4 linked regions of the Homo sapiens genome follow. The protein of the gene in region 1 interacts with the protein of each later gene in a biochemical or structural test. Each region holds a gene or a part of one and is shown in the gene's direction. Other genes may lie near its edges.

Region 1 (3,509 bases):
CCGCAACCTCCGCCTCCCAGGTTCAAGTGATTCTCCTGCCTCCACCTCCCTAGTAGCTGGGATTACAGGCATGTGCCACCACAGCACGGGGCCTTAATTATACATTTGAACTTAAGTGACATTTTATTGAAAACTAATTGTGGTGACGAGGAATGGTCTAAGCATATGATTAGGATAATTCATATTCATTATGAAAACTTAGGTGAAATACAGACTTGGCATTTAGCTTGTCAAATGTAAACATGTTTTCTGCTTTCTTTGCTAAAATCATATTTCCAATTTCAAGGGAAAATGTTAAGAACCAAAATCATCTTTTTCAGCTACCCGCCTGAAAAAATTATTGCTATTTTTCTTTTCTTTTTTTTGAGAATTCTCGCTCTGTTGCCCAGGCTGGAGTGCAGTGGTACGATCTTGGCTCACTGCAACCTTGCCTCCCAGGTTCAAGCGATTCTCTTGCCTCAGCCTCCCAAGTAGCTGGGATTACAGGCGCACACCACCATGCCTGGCTAATTTTTGTATTTTTAGTAGAGACGGGGTTTCACTATGTTGGACAGGATGGTCTTGAACTTCTGACCTCAGGTGATCCGCCTGCCTTGGCCTCCCAAAGTGCTGGGATTACAGGCGTGAGCCACGGCTCCCAGCCTGTTATTTTTCAAGGGCCAGATTGAATTTATTTCTCTGATATTTCCTTTTTCCTTCTTTAACTATATGGTGTAGGAGAAATTCTCCAGGACTATCCCTGAGAGCTGGGGGATCAGTGTCTCAGGAACACCTGTGTTTATTACCTGTGTCCATTCTCTGTGTCTTAAGTGGCCATTTGAAGCCATCTACGTCCTTTTCAATTGAAAGATTATCAGTAGGCTGGGTGCGGTGGCTCATGCTTGTAATCCCAGCACTTTGGGAGGCTGAGGCAGGCAGATCACCTGAGGGCTGGAGTTCAAGACCAACCTGGCCAACATGGTGAAACCCCGTCTTTACTAAAAATACAAAAATTAGCCATGGTGGCATGCACCTGTAATCCCAGCTACTTGAGAGGCTGAGGCACGAGAATCGCTTGAACCTGGGATGCAGAGGCTGCAGTGAGCGGGGATGCACCACTGTTCTCCAGCCTGGGTGACAGCTGAGACTCCGTCTCAAAAAATTAAAAAAAAAAAAGATTATTGCAATTCATTACTCCATGTGGAAGGAGGAGAGGTGTCTGAGAACAGATCAAATGAGGAACAGATGATTAAACCAGAGGGAGATGGAGGTGGAATAAAAGAATATTATGTTAATTAGTGTTAAGGGGTATGAGAAAAGAGGATAAATTTAGTAGAAGAAAGCATAAACAAGATTTCAGCTATGGTTCATTTGCTTTGCTGGAAGACAGTTTAGGAGTATTTGTAATATTTTTAGTTTGTTTTTAATCTATATAAAAGCAGATGAAGAGGAGTGGGAAGTGAAAGAATAATGTTACTTGAATAACACTTATCTCTGGTTTCAGGGATTTTCATTACAACTTTACTAGTATTTGTTTCATTAGCTGAATACTATTGGAGAAGAACTCAGTTTTAGATAAATTCTGAAATGGAATTAATACATTCATATCACTTGCTTGCCTAAAAAACATTTTTATTATAGGGTTTAAGATTAACAAGATTTTAAAATAAGTGATTAGATTTTAGAATGTGTAAAGTTTGGTTTATAACTTGAAAGGATAGTTCTATGGATATCAGTGTTTTTTTATTTTGCTATTTTATTCGTGCTGTTTATTTGCTCTGTTCATCATAGGGGCAAAGGAAATGTTAGATCATCCTAATAGTTGATAAGCTAGTAAAGATGAGGGTAGGGGATAATTTTAGAGTAAGGCCTGTGTGGCTTAGTGTGTTTCAGAATATCTGAAAGACATTTCCATGGGCTTGGGTGTCAGATAAATTAGAAACCCAGCCGGGCAGAGTGGCTCACGCCTGTAATCCCAGCACTTTGGGAGGCCATGGCGGGCGGATCACCTGAGGTCAGGAGTTCGAGACCAGCCTGGCCAACATGGTGAAACCCCGTCTCTACTAAAAATACAAAAAATTAGCCAGGTGTGGTGGCATGTGCCTGTAATCCCAGCTACTCAGGAGGCTGAGGCAGGAGAATCGCTTGAACCCGGGAGGTGGAGGTTTCAGTGAGCCGAGATTGCACCACTGCACTTCAGTCTGAGTAACAAGAGCAAAACTCTGTCTCAGGAAAAAAAAAAAAAAAGAAACCCTTTATTATATCTTCATCCTGGAAATCATAATGTATATAAGTTTATTTTAAAGGGTTAGGGAAGTTAGACGGTCAATCAGTTTAACTTCATGTTTCTTTCTTTTTTTTTTTTTTTTTTTTTTTTTTTTTGAGATGGAGTCTTGCTCTATCAGCCAGGCTGTAGTGCAGTGGCATGATCTTGGCTCACTGCCACCTCTGCCTCCCGGGTTCAAGCAATTCTCCTGCCTCACCCTCCTGAGTAGCTGGGATTACAGGTGCCCGCCACCATGCCCGGCTAATTTTTGTATTTTTAGTGGAGATGTTGGCCATCTCCACTTTAGTGGAGACCGTGTTGGCCAGGCTGGTCTCGAACTCCTGACCTCAAGTGATCCGCCCCCTTCAGCCTCCCAAAGTGCTGGGATTACAGGCGTGAGCCACTGCGCCCGGCCTAACTTGATGTTTCTTAAACTTGTTTGATGACGTTTCATCCTCCCCATCACCCCTATGGAACACCCTTTTTTATTTTATTTATTTCTTTTTTTTGGAGAACGGATTCTTACTCTGTCACCCAGGCTGGAGTGCAGTGGCGTGATCTTGGCTCACTGCAACCTCTGCCTCCTGGGTTCAAGCAATTCTGCCTCAGCCTCCCGAGTAGCTGGGACTACAGGCATGTGCCACCATACCCAGCTAATTTTTGTATTTTTAGTAGACACGGGGTTTCACCACGTTGGCCAGGCTGGTCTCAAACTCCTGGCCTTAAATGATGTGCCTGCCTTGGCCTCCCAAAGTGTTGGGATTACAGGCGTGAGCCTCCATGCCTGGCTGTTTGACCCATTTAAAAAATGGCTTGTGGTTTATAAGACAAATTGTTTGAGAATCTGAATGTAGGTACTTCTACCTCATCAGCTAGAACAAAGAAAGTCTAAATAATCATAGTTTGTTTTGTAGTTGGCATCTCACCTCATAACTTTTAAAAGAAAGGTTCTGAATTTGTCACGTTTGCTGCCTAGGTAATGTAGTGACTTATTTTATGCTGCAAATGTCTGCTTGTTTAGGATTTCTGATATAGGCTGGCATGATTTCATTCTTGTAGACTTACGACCAAATTACTCTGTGCTGATTCTGAAAAGATTTGTCTTTTTGGTGCATGTATAAGAACATAAGTTGCCTGATCTTAAGAGTTTTTTTCTGATTGGGTATGGTGGCTCATGCCTGTAATCCCAGCAGTTTGGGAGACCTAGGTGGGAGGATTGCTTGAGGCCAGCAGTTTGAGACGAGCCTGGTAGCCTGGTCAACAT
Region 2 (3,509 bases), on another chromosome or scaffold:
AAGAAACTTAGGAAGGAATCTCAAGAGCATACAAAAGATCTAGACAAGGAACTAGATGAATATATGCATGGTGGCAAAAAAATGGGATCAAAGGAAGAGGAAAATGGGCAAGGTCATCTCAAAAGGAAACGACCTGTCAAAGACAGGCTAGGGAACAGACCAGAAATGAACTATAAAGGTCGATACGAGATCACAGCGGAAGATTCTCAAGAGAAAGTGGCTGATGAAATTTCATTCAGGTGAGCATTTGAATTACAAATAAGTACTTGACCAGATGGCTTCTATTTACAGGAAATAAAATGAATGCCAAATACTTTAATGATATGTTCCTTTTTTTTTTTTTTTTTTTGGAGACAGGGTCTTGCTCTGTCACCCAGGCTGGAGTGCAGTTACTCACTGCAACCTCCGCCTCCTCGCTCAAGGGATTCTCTTACCTCAGCCTCCTGAATAGCTGGGACCACAGGTATGCACCCCCACGCCCAGCTATTCTTTGTATTTTTAATAGAGACAGGGTCTTGCCATGTTGTCCAAGCTACTCTCGAACTCCAGAGCTCAAGGGATCCACCCGCCTTTGCCTCTCAAAGTGCTGAGATTACAGGCGTGAGCCATGGGCTGGCCTAATCTATTTATTTATTTATTTATTTGAGAAAGGATCTCACTCTTGCCCAGGCTGGAGTGCAGTGCTGCAATCACACCTCACTGGAACCTAGAACTCTTGGGCTGAAAGGATCCTTCCACCTCAGCTTCCTGAGTAACTGGGACTACAGGCTCAGGCCATTATGCCTGGCCAATTAAAAAAAAAAAATTATGGCCAGACAGAGTGGCTCATGCTTGTAATCCCAGCACTTTGGGAGGCTGAGGTGAGTGGATCATGAGGTCAGGAGTTCAAGACCAGCCTGGCCGACACAGTGAAACCCCATCTCTACTAAAAATACAAAAATTAGCTGGGCGTGGTAGTGGGCGCCTGTAATCCCAGCTACTCGGGAGGCTGAGGCAGGAGAATCACTTGAACCCGGGAGGCGGAGGTTGCAGTGAGCCGAGATTGTGCCACTGCACTCCAGCCTGGGTGACAGAACTAGACTCCATCTCAGAAAAAAAAAAAAATTAGGAGTTTCACTGTGTTGCCCAGGCTGGTGTCAAACTCCTGGGAACAAGCAGTCCTCCCACATTGGCCTCCCAAAGTGCTGGGATTATATGCATCAACCACTGCGCTGTCCACAGATTTTTTTTTTTTTTTAAGAGATGGTCTTGCTCTGGTCACTCAGCTGGAGTGCAGTAGCACAATCAGAGCTCATTGAAGCTGAACTCCTGGGCTTAAGCAATCCTCCTGCCTCAACTTCCCAGATTGCTGGGATTATAGGTGTGAGCCACTGTACCTGAGTCTTTGAAAATTTTTCTTTAAGGAACTGGGATAATTTGGTTATATGAATACATTCGTAATGTATTTTTCTGTTGGTTTTTTGTTTATGAGACAGTCTTGCTCTGTCACCCAGGCTGGAGTGCAGTGGTGGTATCCTGGCTCACTGCAACGTCCCCTCATGAGAATTGCTTGAACGTGAGAGAGCCACCTGAGTAGCTGGGACTATAGGCATTCGCCACCACACCCAAATAATTTTTTTTTTTTTGTATTTTTAGTAGAGATAGGGTTTCATTATGTTGGCCGGACTGATCTCGATCTCCTGGCCTCAAGTGATTTGCCTGCCTTGGCCTCCCAAATGCTGGGATTATAGGCGTGAGCTGCGCACCCACTGTGTTTTCTTAAATTTGGACAAGCCTGATAGAATAATTTTGTAGACTTTTATGAACTGTTAAACAACTTGTTGCATTTAGTGCCATAGAGCTTTTTAAATAAAGCATATATTTTTAAATCATGGGTTGTTTTTGTTTGTTTAGTGTTTTCAAGAATTTGTGACTTTTTTCTTAACTTTGAGGTATATTTTACAGATAATATTCACCCATTTCTAGTGTTAATTTTTTTAGGAAACATATCAAGTTGTATAACCATCACCTCTGAAACATTTCTGTCACCCAGTAAGATCCCTTATGTCCACATGCCAGTTTATAGTTAATCCCTGTTCTCATTCCCAGATAACTGCTAATCTACTTTCTGTCTATAAATTTGCCTTTTTTGGATATTTCATATAAATGGTGTCATGTAGTATGTAATCTCGTGCCTTGCTTCTGTCAGCTAATGTTATGTTTTTGTTTGTTTTTGTTTTTGTTTTTTTGTGTGTGTGGTTTGTTTTTTTGATTGTTTGTTTGTTTGTTTGAGACAGAGTGTCACTCTGTTGCCCAGGCTGGAGTGCAGTGTCACGATCTCAGCTCACTGCAACCTCCGCCTCCTGGGTTCAAGCAATTCTCATGCCTCAGCCTCGTGAGTAGCTGGAATTACAGCCATGTGCTACAACGCCCAGCTAATTTTTATATTTTTTAGTAGAGACAGGGTTTCGCCATGTTGGCCAGGCTGGTCTCGAACTCCAGACCACCTCAGCCTCCCAAAGTGGTGGGATTAGAGGCGTAAGCCACTGTGCCCAGCCAATGTTGTGTTTTTGAGATTGATCCATGGTGTAGCAGGAATCAATACATTTTTATAGTGTGTGTATATATGCATATATTCATATTGAATATTCTACTTTTTGGCTATCATGAATAATGCTGTTATGAACCTTCACATCCAGATCTTTAAACACATATTTTCATATCTTTGTTTTCTTTTGTTTTGTTTTAGACAGAGTCTCACTCTGTTGCCCAGGATGGAGTGCAGTGGCATGATCTCAGCTCACTGCAACCTCCGCCTCCTGGGTTCAATCAAATCTCCTGCCTCAGCCTCCCTAGTAGCCGGGATTAGAGGCGTGCGCCACCACGCCCAGATAATTTTTTTTTTGTATTTTTAGTAGAGACAGGGTTTCACCTTGTTGACCAGGCTGGTCTCAAACTTCTAACCTCAGATGATCCACCCCCTTCGACCTCCCAAAGTGTTGGGATTACAGGCATGAGCCACCTCACCTGGCCATATTTTCATTTCTTTCAGGTAAATACCCAGAAGTAGAATTGCTTGGTGTATGGTAAATTTACAATTCATGTATTTTTACCAAGTTCAGATTTTGAATTAACATTTTCATTAGCTCTAAATTACTAATGAACAGTGTCATAAATTTGAAAACAGATACGGTTCAAGAGTAATGCAGGTGGTAGGAAAACAAGTATTTACTTTCCAGGCAAGCCTATCTGAACACCAGTACTTGATTTTTAAAATACTGGGGAAGTTTGGAATTTGAGTGCTGGAAAGAAACTTAGAGATGTTGTAAACCAAAACCTTCATTTCACAGATTAATATTAGACCTGGAGTTAAACCCTGATCCTTGTGTTCCTAGTCTATTTCTCTTTCCACAAAAATGCACTGCCTCCTGTTGAGAAGAAACAAAGGGTGCCAGGTCTGAATTCTTTTTTTTTTTTTTTTTTTTTTTTTTTGAGACGGAGTTTCACTCTCGTTGCCCAGGCTGGAGTGC
Region 3 (3,509 bases), on another chromosome or scaffold:
AGTTTAACAACACAATATGTGCAGGCATGAGTGGCTAATCCTATGTGAAAGTCAGCAGCTCTTTGGGTTAAGGGGATGGGAAAAAAAACTGAACTTCTGAAGCCTCCGAGTCAGGCTGCCTGGGCACATGTCCTAGTTCTGGCACTTAACACCTGTGTGACTTTGGGCAAGTTACCTCACCTTTACCTCAGTTTATCCTTTGTAAAATGGAGATAATATTATTTCCCTGAGGATTAAAGGAGTTAAAAAAGATTATGTACTCAGAACAGTGCCTGGCCCAGAGTAGCCACAATAAAAGGTTGAGGTTTTCAATGTTGCTTTTGTTTTTTTCCTAGGTACTTAATACTGGTTCTGTCATGTAATATTCATAACTATTCTTTGAGAGAGATAGTACAGTGGTCCCCAATTACCCGTGGTTTTCTTTTCCAGGGTTTCAGTTACCCATAGTCAACCATGGTCTGAAAATAGGTGAATATGGGGCATTTTAAGAAAGAAAGAGACCATATTCATGTAATTTTTATTACATTGTTATAATTATTCTATTGTTAATCTCTTACTGTGCCTACTTTACAAATTAAACTTTATAACAGGTATGTATGTATAAAAAACAACATAGTATATATGGGGTTCAGTACTGTCCAAGGTTCAGGCACCCACTGGGGGTCTTGGAACATATCCGTGGAGGATAAGGCAGACTATTATATTGCTCTTCTTTTCCAGATGAGAACACAGGCTCAGAAAGGTTTAGTAACGTGGCCAAGGTCACACAGCTAAATAGCAGAAGCAGGGTTTGAACTCAGGTCTTTTTGACCTTATACTAAATACCACACCCCCACCAATGGGGAGGAGGGGCAGAGAAGTTGTTAAATCTGATTTTTGTTATGACTTTTGGCCTCTGGCAAGGAAATAATTTCATATCACCCTGTATCTCACAGTTGAAGATGACAGTAATTGCCAGCCTTGAGGAACACTATGTAAATTATTTTATTATTAAAGATGATTCAATCCCACATATGTGGCATGAAAGTGGATCTAGCATGAACACTGCTAGGGTTAACATAAGCAGTTTAATTTATGCCATAAACGAAGAGATTTACTAGGTGAAAATGTGGGACTATATGGTGAGAAAGCAAGCCAAGCCACAGCCAGGGACAAGGACTTCTGGTGGCTGGGGATGAAGTGAAGCTCTAGCATAGACTGTGTGCTCGCTTCAAAATTCTGGGGAGCCCGGGGTTGCAGAGTCCAGTAACCACCTGTGGACAATCCCCTCCTTGAAGGCAGGAACCACACTACCTGGGCCTTCAGTCCCGGCACTCAGTGGACGTTTTAGTCCATGTTTGTTGATGATGTTGCTGCAAGAACTCAGCAGAAGAGGAGCTACAGGTAAAGTGAACAGAAAGGCACTGGGCTGTGTCCATGGCAGAAGTCAAGCCCTGTTACAGTTCAGCATATCCCCTGGGCCCTGCTAGATAAGAAACACACAACAAGGAAACCTTTGAAACCTTGTCCTTACTGCTTGCCCCGGAAAACCCACAGGGCCTGCCTTGGCCTCCACTGCTTTGATGCTCTGGGTTTGTGATTAGCTGTGGGGATCAGCTCCAGAGACTTCTCAGATGGAAACAGGGTTCTGGAAAGGACAGTCCGAAGTAACTCAGGTAGCCTCAAAGCCAATGGTTACAGTCTTGGAGCTGTCCAATTCCATTTGAAATCTTCTCCTGTCCCCACCTCTTAAAGGCTACAAAACAAAACAATACCCCACAAACCAGAATAAGTAGCCATGTAGTTCTAAAGCAATAGTCAGGTGTGTTTCTTTCCTTAAAAAAAAAAAAAAGCTTTCTCCTTGATATACTTCAGTGCCAAGTTTCATCAGAATCACATGATGATGGACTGAATTTGACAGTACCTCTGGTAGAAAAGCAGTTTTCAAATTTTAACCATACAGTTTTATAATACAAAGCATGATGCTGAGATTTAAAAGATTACTATTTCTAAATAGCCAAGTAAACTGTGTGAAAGCTGATGAGTTCCAAACTAGTGTTTGCTTAGTCCTTACTGCTTGCCTAAGTCATGAATTAATAGAATTCTAGAATCCCAAATTTAAAACTTTTTAAAAAGGATTTTCAGTGGATTGGGTTTTATTTCCATATTGGATAAAGTTATTATTAGCCTTCTAGCCTTTGGCCCTTTGTTAAACCATGTTGCAGAGATCACACACCTGCAATTAGGTAACAGGGTACCGCCTAAAGTGTACCTCGAGCCATGAATGTCATAAAAGTATTCTGTGGGACCCCAGTTTGATGAAGGTCCCTTTCTGCAGGACTTCTCAGAACATTTAAAAAGCCAGTGTATATAGTGAATCTCCACAGGGAGGTCGTGTCCAGAGTTTCTCAAATGGTTTTGCCCACTGAGCAGCTGCAGGACCAGCCTGGCAGGAAACACACTCTGGGAAACACAGAACAGAAGCTACATAACCGCAGTATGTCCTACAGAGCCGAAGCAACCCAGGGACATTTTAGTTAGAGAACCACAGGCGTTACAGGAAGAGAGCGATGAGGATGTACCAGGAGATCCTGGCAAACGCTGATAAAACTAATGGAGAATTAAGTGAGGGCAATCAAAAGGGGTGTCTGTGTGTAGAAATAGAGATTAAAAAAATACCAATTCTGGTCTTAGCTCTGACCCAAATTGTATAACCTTGACCTCTTGGGGTTTTCTTGTTCTCATCCCTAAAACGTAGCATTTGGTGAGAGATGATCTCAGATAATCTCTGGCTCCAGAACAGTGAGCCAGGATCAGTGGCACCTATTAGCATAGCTATCTTACTACTAATAATGTAAGACTCTGGGTTGAAAAACAGACCCGTGCAGATCTCTGGCAGAGCAGCCTGAGCAAGCGTGGAAGGCAGGGAACTTCCAAGTCAGGCCTCTATTTAGACAGCTTCCACATTTGGGAATCCGTCATGTTCTGGTGACAACCTGAAGGTCCTATTTGTAGACACATCATGCCAATGATAGATCGTTGTCATGAGTTTAGTTGAAAAAGAGCTTTTCTGTCCAAATACATCATAATCATTTAGGCTACATACATTTTTTAAAACAAGCAGAGGCATTTTTGGTGAAATGTGGCTTTGCCATTCAGAATGTGTTTGATTTCTCAACCTTTTTATTTATTTTTTAAACTTTTGTTTTGCCAAGGGTCAGTTCAGACTTAAAACATTGATTTTAACACAGCGGGAGATGAGGCTCTAAGCCTTTGGCTGACCAGCTAGTCAGAAAACAAATCCTTCCCCTTCTCTGGGCAGGCTCCATCCCATCACCTGTGAAAAAAAATGGCAGAGTGGGAGGGTGGGGATGGGAAGGGAGGCCAGAGAAGTGTGTGGATGTTCCCCAGGCCCTCTCCTGGCCCTAAACTGTGATTCTGTTCCTCTTTTTTCTTGTATCAGAGGCATTTCCATAGTGTCTTGTATCTTCTCCTATTGTAACACTTACTACATTTAAGTTATCTTTATA
Region 4 (3,509 bases), on another chromosome or scaffold:
TTAGACAAAGTCTTGCTGTGTCATTCAAGCTGGAGTGCAGTGGCACAGTCATAGCTCACTGTAACTTCAAACTCCCGAGCTCAAGCAATCCTTCTTCCTCGGCCTTCTGAGTAGCTGGGACTACAGGCATGCGCCACCATGCCTGGCTAATTTGTTTTTTCTTAGAGACAGGGTCTTGCTATGTTGCCCAGGCTGGTCTCAAACTCCTGGCTTCAAGTGATCCTTCTGCCTTGGCCTCTCAAAGCTCTTAAGATTATAAGACATGAGCCATCACTCCTGGCCTCATTTTACCTTTTAATTTTTTTTGTTTTTGTTTTTTTTTTTTGAGACGGAGTCTTGCTCTGTCACCCAGGCTGGAGTGCAGTGGCGCAATCTCGGCTCACTGCAAGCTCCGCCTGCCGGGTTCACGCCATTCTCCTGCTTCAGCCTCCTGAGTAGCTGGAACTACAGGCGGCTGCCACCATGCCCGGCTAATTTTTTTGTATTTTTAGTAGAGATGGGGTTGCATTGTGGTCTCGATCTCCTGACCTCGTGATCTGCCTGCCTCGGCCTTCCAAAGTGCTGGGATTACAGGCGTGAGCCACTGCGCCCGGCCTTTTTTTTTTTTTTTTTGAGGTGGAGTCTTGCTCTGTTGCCTAGGCTGGGTGCAGTGGCATGATCTCGGCTCACTGCAACCTCTGCCTCCCGGGTTCAATGATTTTTCTGCCTCAGCCTCCCCAGTAGCTGGGATTACAGGTGCATGCCACCACGCCTGGCTAAGTTTTAATTTTTGTTTTTAATAGAGACGGGGTTTTGCCATGTTGGCCAGTCTGGTCTCAAACTCAAATGATCCGCCTGCCTCCGACTCCCAAAGTGCTGGGATTACACGCGTGAGCCACTGTGCCCGCCCATTATCTTTTTTTTTTTTTTAATTTGGAGACAGAGTCTGTGGTGTCAGATGGAGCGAGCCTCTGTCACCCAGGCTGGAGTGCAGTTGTGTGATCTCAGCTCACTGCAACCTCTGTCTCCTGGGCTCAGGTGATCCTCTCACCTCAGCCTCCTGAGTAGGTGGGACTGTAGGCGCACGCCACCACACCCAGGTAATTTTTCTATTTTTAGTAGAAATGGGGTCTTGTTATGTTGCTGAGGCTGGTCCCAACTCCTGGGCTCAAGTGATCTGCCCACCCCGGCCTCCCAAAGTGCCGGGATTATAGGCATGGGCCACTGCACCCAGCATTGAAAAAATTTCTTTTGTAGAAATGAAGTTTCACTGTCTTGCCCAGGCTAGTCTTGAACTCCTGGGCTCAAGTAATCCTCCCACTTTTGCCTCCCAAAGTGTTGGGATTACAGGTTTGAGCCACCATGCCTGGCCTTAATCTTCTCAATATACTTTAAGGTTAACAGCTTTTAAAATTTCTCTTTTACAGCTGAGGAAACTGAGGCACAGAGAGGCTAAGTAACCAGTTCAAGGTTACATCACTGGGAATTGACTGGGCCTGGGCTTGTTTTTAGGACTTTCTGATTCAAAAGTCTTTTTTCCTTGCTTATTAAGCTATATTCTAATGGATATATATATATATATATATGGATATATACATATATGGATATATATATATATGGATATATACATATATGGATATATATATATATATGGATATATATATATATATATGGATATATATATATATGGATATATATATATATATATGGATATATATATATATATTTGAGACAGAGTTTTGCTGTTGTTGCCCAGGCTGGAGTGCAATGGTGTGATCTCGGCTCACCGCAACCTCCGACTCCCGTGTTCAAGCGATTCTCCTGCCTCAGCCTCCCCTGTAGCTGGGATTACAGGCATGCGCCACCACGCACAGCTAATTTTGTAGTTTTACTAGAGACGGGTTTTCTCCACGTTAGGCTAGTCTTGAAATCCCAACCTCAGGTGATCCGCCCGCCTCCGCCTCCCAAAGTGCTGGGATTAGAGGTGTGAGCCACCAGGCCCCAGCCTTTTTTTTTTTTTTTTTTTTTTAAGAGAAAAAGAAATTGCTGTAATATAGTCTCTGGTGTTATACTTGAAGCTATAATTTGAAGCTTCTATTTTCTTCTAGAGGTTTGGTTAACTTTAAGGTAATTTAAAATAATTACAAGTGAACTGAAAAAGCTGCTTTGTTTAGTGAAAGAGAATTAACTATAGGTGTATGCAGTAAGACTGAAGAAAGTAATATAATGTCAAGTGAAGAAGGCAAATTGCAGAAGTCTATATGAAGTATGCCTTTTTTTTGTATGAAACTCACAAGTGAGCGAAACTAAATGATAAATAGTTTAAGGGTGCTGCCAAGTGTGCAAACTATTCAAAAACAAGGGAACGGTAAAAGCAAATTTCAGAATGTCGGTTATCTCTTGTGGGACAGTAGAGAGGAAACAGGTAGTTTCAGTGGATTCATAAGTCAGATGGTGTGTTTACAAGTGTTCATTTTATTATGCTTCATAACACAGTATGTATGTTAGATATTCTTCATAAGAAAAAAGAATACAGACCAAGCATGGTGGCTCATGAGCTCATGCTCATGGTGGTTCTTATATTGAGAACCCTGTCTTTACAAAAACAACTAAAAAATTAAAAAAAAAAAAAAAGCTTTAAAGGATGCGTTTAAAGTGAATCTACCACATATCAAGTAATATTGAGGATGTTTTATATTACCTGAGGGACTTTGAATTGCTTTATATATATATCTAGTATCTAGTGAAAACAAATCTCATTTATTCAGTAAAATATTAAATTAGCCTAGGTTCATAAGGGTATTAAAGAATTTTTTTTTTTTTGAGATGGAGTCTCATTTTCGCCCAGGCTGGAGTGCAGTGGCATGATCTCAGCTCATTGCAACCTCTGCCTCTCAGGTTCAATGATCAGGCGATTCTTGATTCTCATGCTTAACCACTAGAGTAGCTGGGATTATCAGCGCACGCCATCACGCCCGGCTAGTTTTTAGTAGAGACAGGGTTTCACCATGTTGCCCAGGCTGGTCTCGAACTCCTGGCCTCAAGCAGTCCACCAGCCTTGGCCTCCCAAAGTGTTGGGATTACAGGTGTGAGCCACCACGCCTGACCTAGTATATTATCTTTACTCAAGTATTTTAGCTCAAATTAAACCTCTAGTATTTGTTACAAGGCTATTTAATTCTTAATAGCAACCTATCAATGTCTTATTTCTTGTAAATCTAAAGTAATTTTCAATTTTAGAGAGTTTTAAATTTGTAGATTTATAAATTTACTTTTAAATATTTTTTAAATAACCTTAAGTTATTTATATCAAGCATTTCCTTCACCCCACTTCCTTATTGTAAAAGGAACTTAACATTTATTCTTCTGTACTTTCTTTTTTATACTGTTGTTTTGCAGCAAGGGCAAGTATTTTGTAACCTTCCCATATCCATATATGAATGGACGCCTTCATTTGGGACACACGTTTTCTTTATCCAAATGTGAGGTAATGTTTCCCTATGTTTGCTATAATGGGGAGGAAGGTTTTT

Evidence for each region. Proteins that work in one complex are often made in the same cells at the same time.
Region 2: the proteins of CDC42 (region 1) and PHAX form a complex in vitro, tested with the Homo sapiens proteins (one large-scale study listed by BioGRID).
Region 3: the proteins of CDC42 (region 1) and CDC42EP3 form a complex in vitro, tested with the Homo sapiens proteins (2 studies listed by BioGRID).
Region 4: the proteins of CDC42 (region 1) and LARS1 form a complex in vitro, tested with the Homo sapiens proteins (one large-scale study listed by BioGRID).

Annotation. Positions count from the first base shown.
Region 1 is NC_000001.11:22,059,201-22,062,709, forward strand, and holds part of CDC42 (cell division control protein 42 homolog isoform 1 precursor), read left to right. Parts: intron 1-3,509. UniProt on the Homo sapiens protein: Plasma membrane-associated small GTPase which cycles between an active GTP-bound and an inactive GDP-bound state. In active state binds to a variety of effector proteins to regulate cellular responses. Involved in epithelial cell polarization processes.
Region 2 is NC_000005.10:126,603,945-126,607,453, forward strand, and holds part of PHAX (phosphorylated adapter RNA export protein), read left to right. Parts: coding exon 1-239; intron 240-3,509. UniProt on the Homo sapiens protein: A phosphoprotein adapter involved in the XPO1-mediated U snRNA export from the nucleus.
Region 3 is NC_000002.12:37,665,136-37,668,644, reverse strand, and holds part of CDC42EP3 (cdc42 effector protein 3), read left to right. Parts: intron 1-3,509.
Region 4 is NC_000005.10:146,172,644-146,176,152, reverse strand, and holds part of LARS1 (leucine--tRNA ligase, cytoplasmic), read left to right. Parts: intron 1-3,378; coding exon 3,379-3,466; intron 3,467-3,509. UniProt on the Homo sapiens protein: Aminoacyl-tRNA synthetase that catalyzes the specific attachment of leucine to its cognate tRNA (tRNA(Leu)).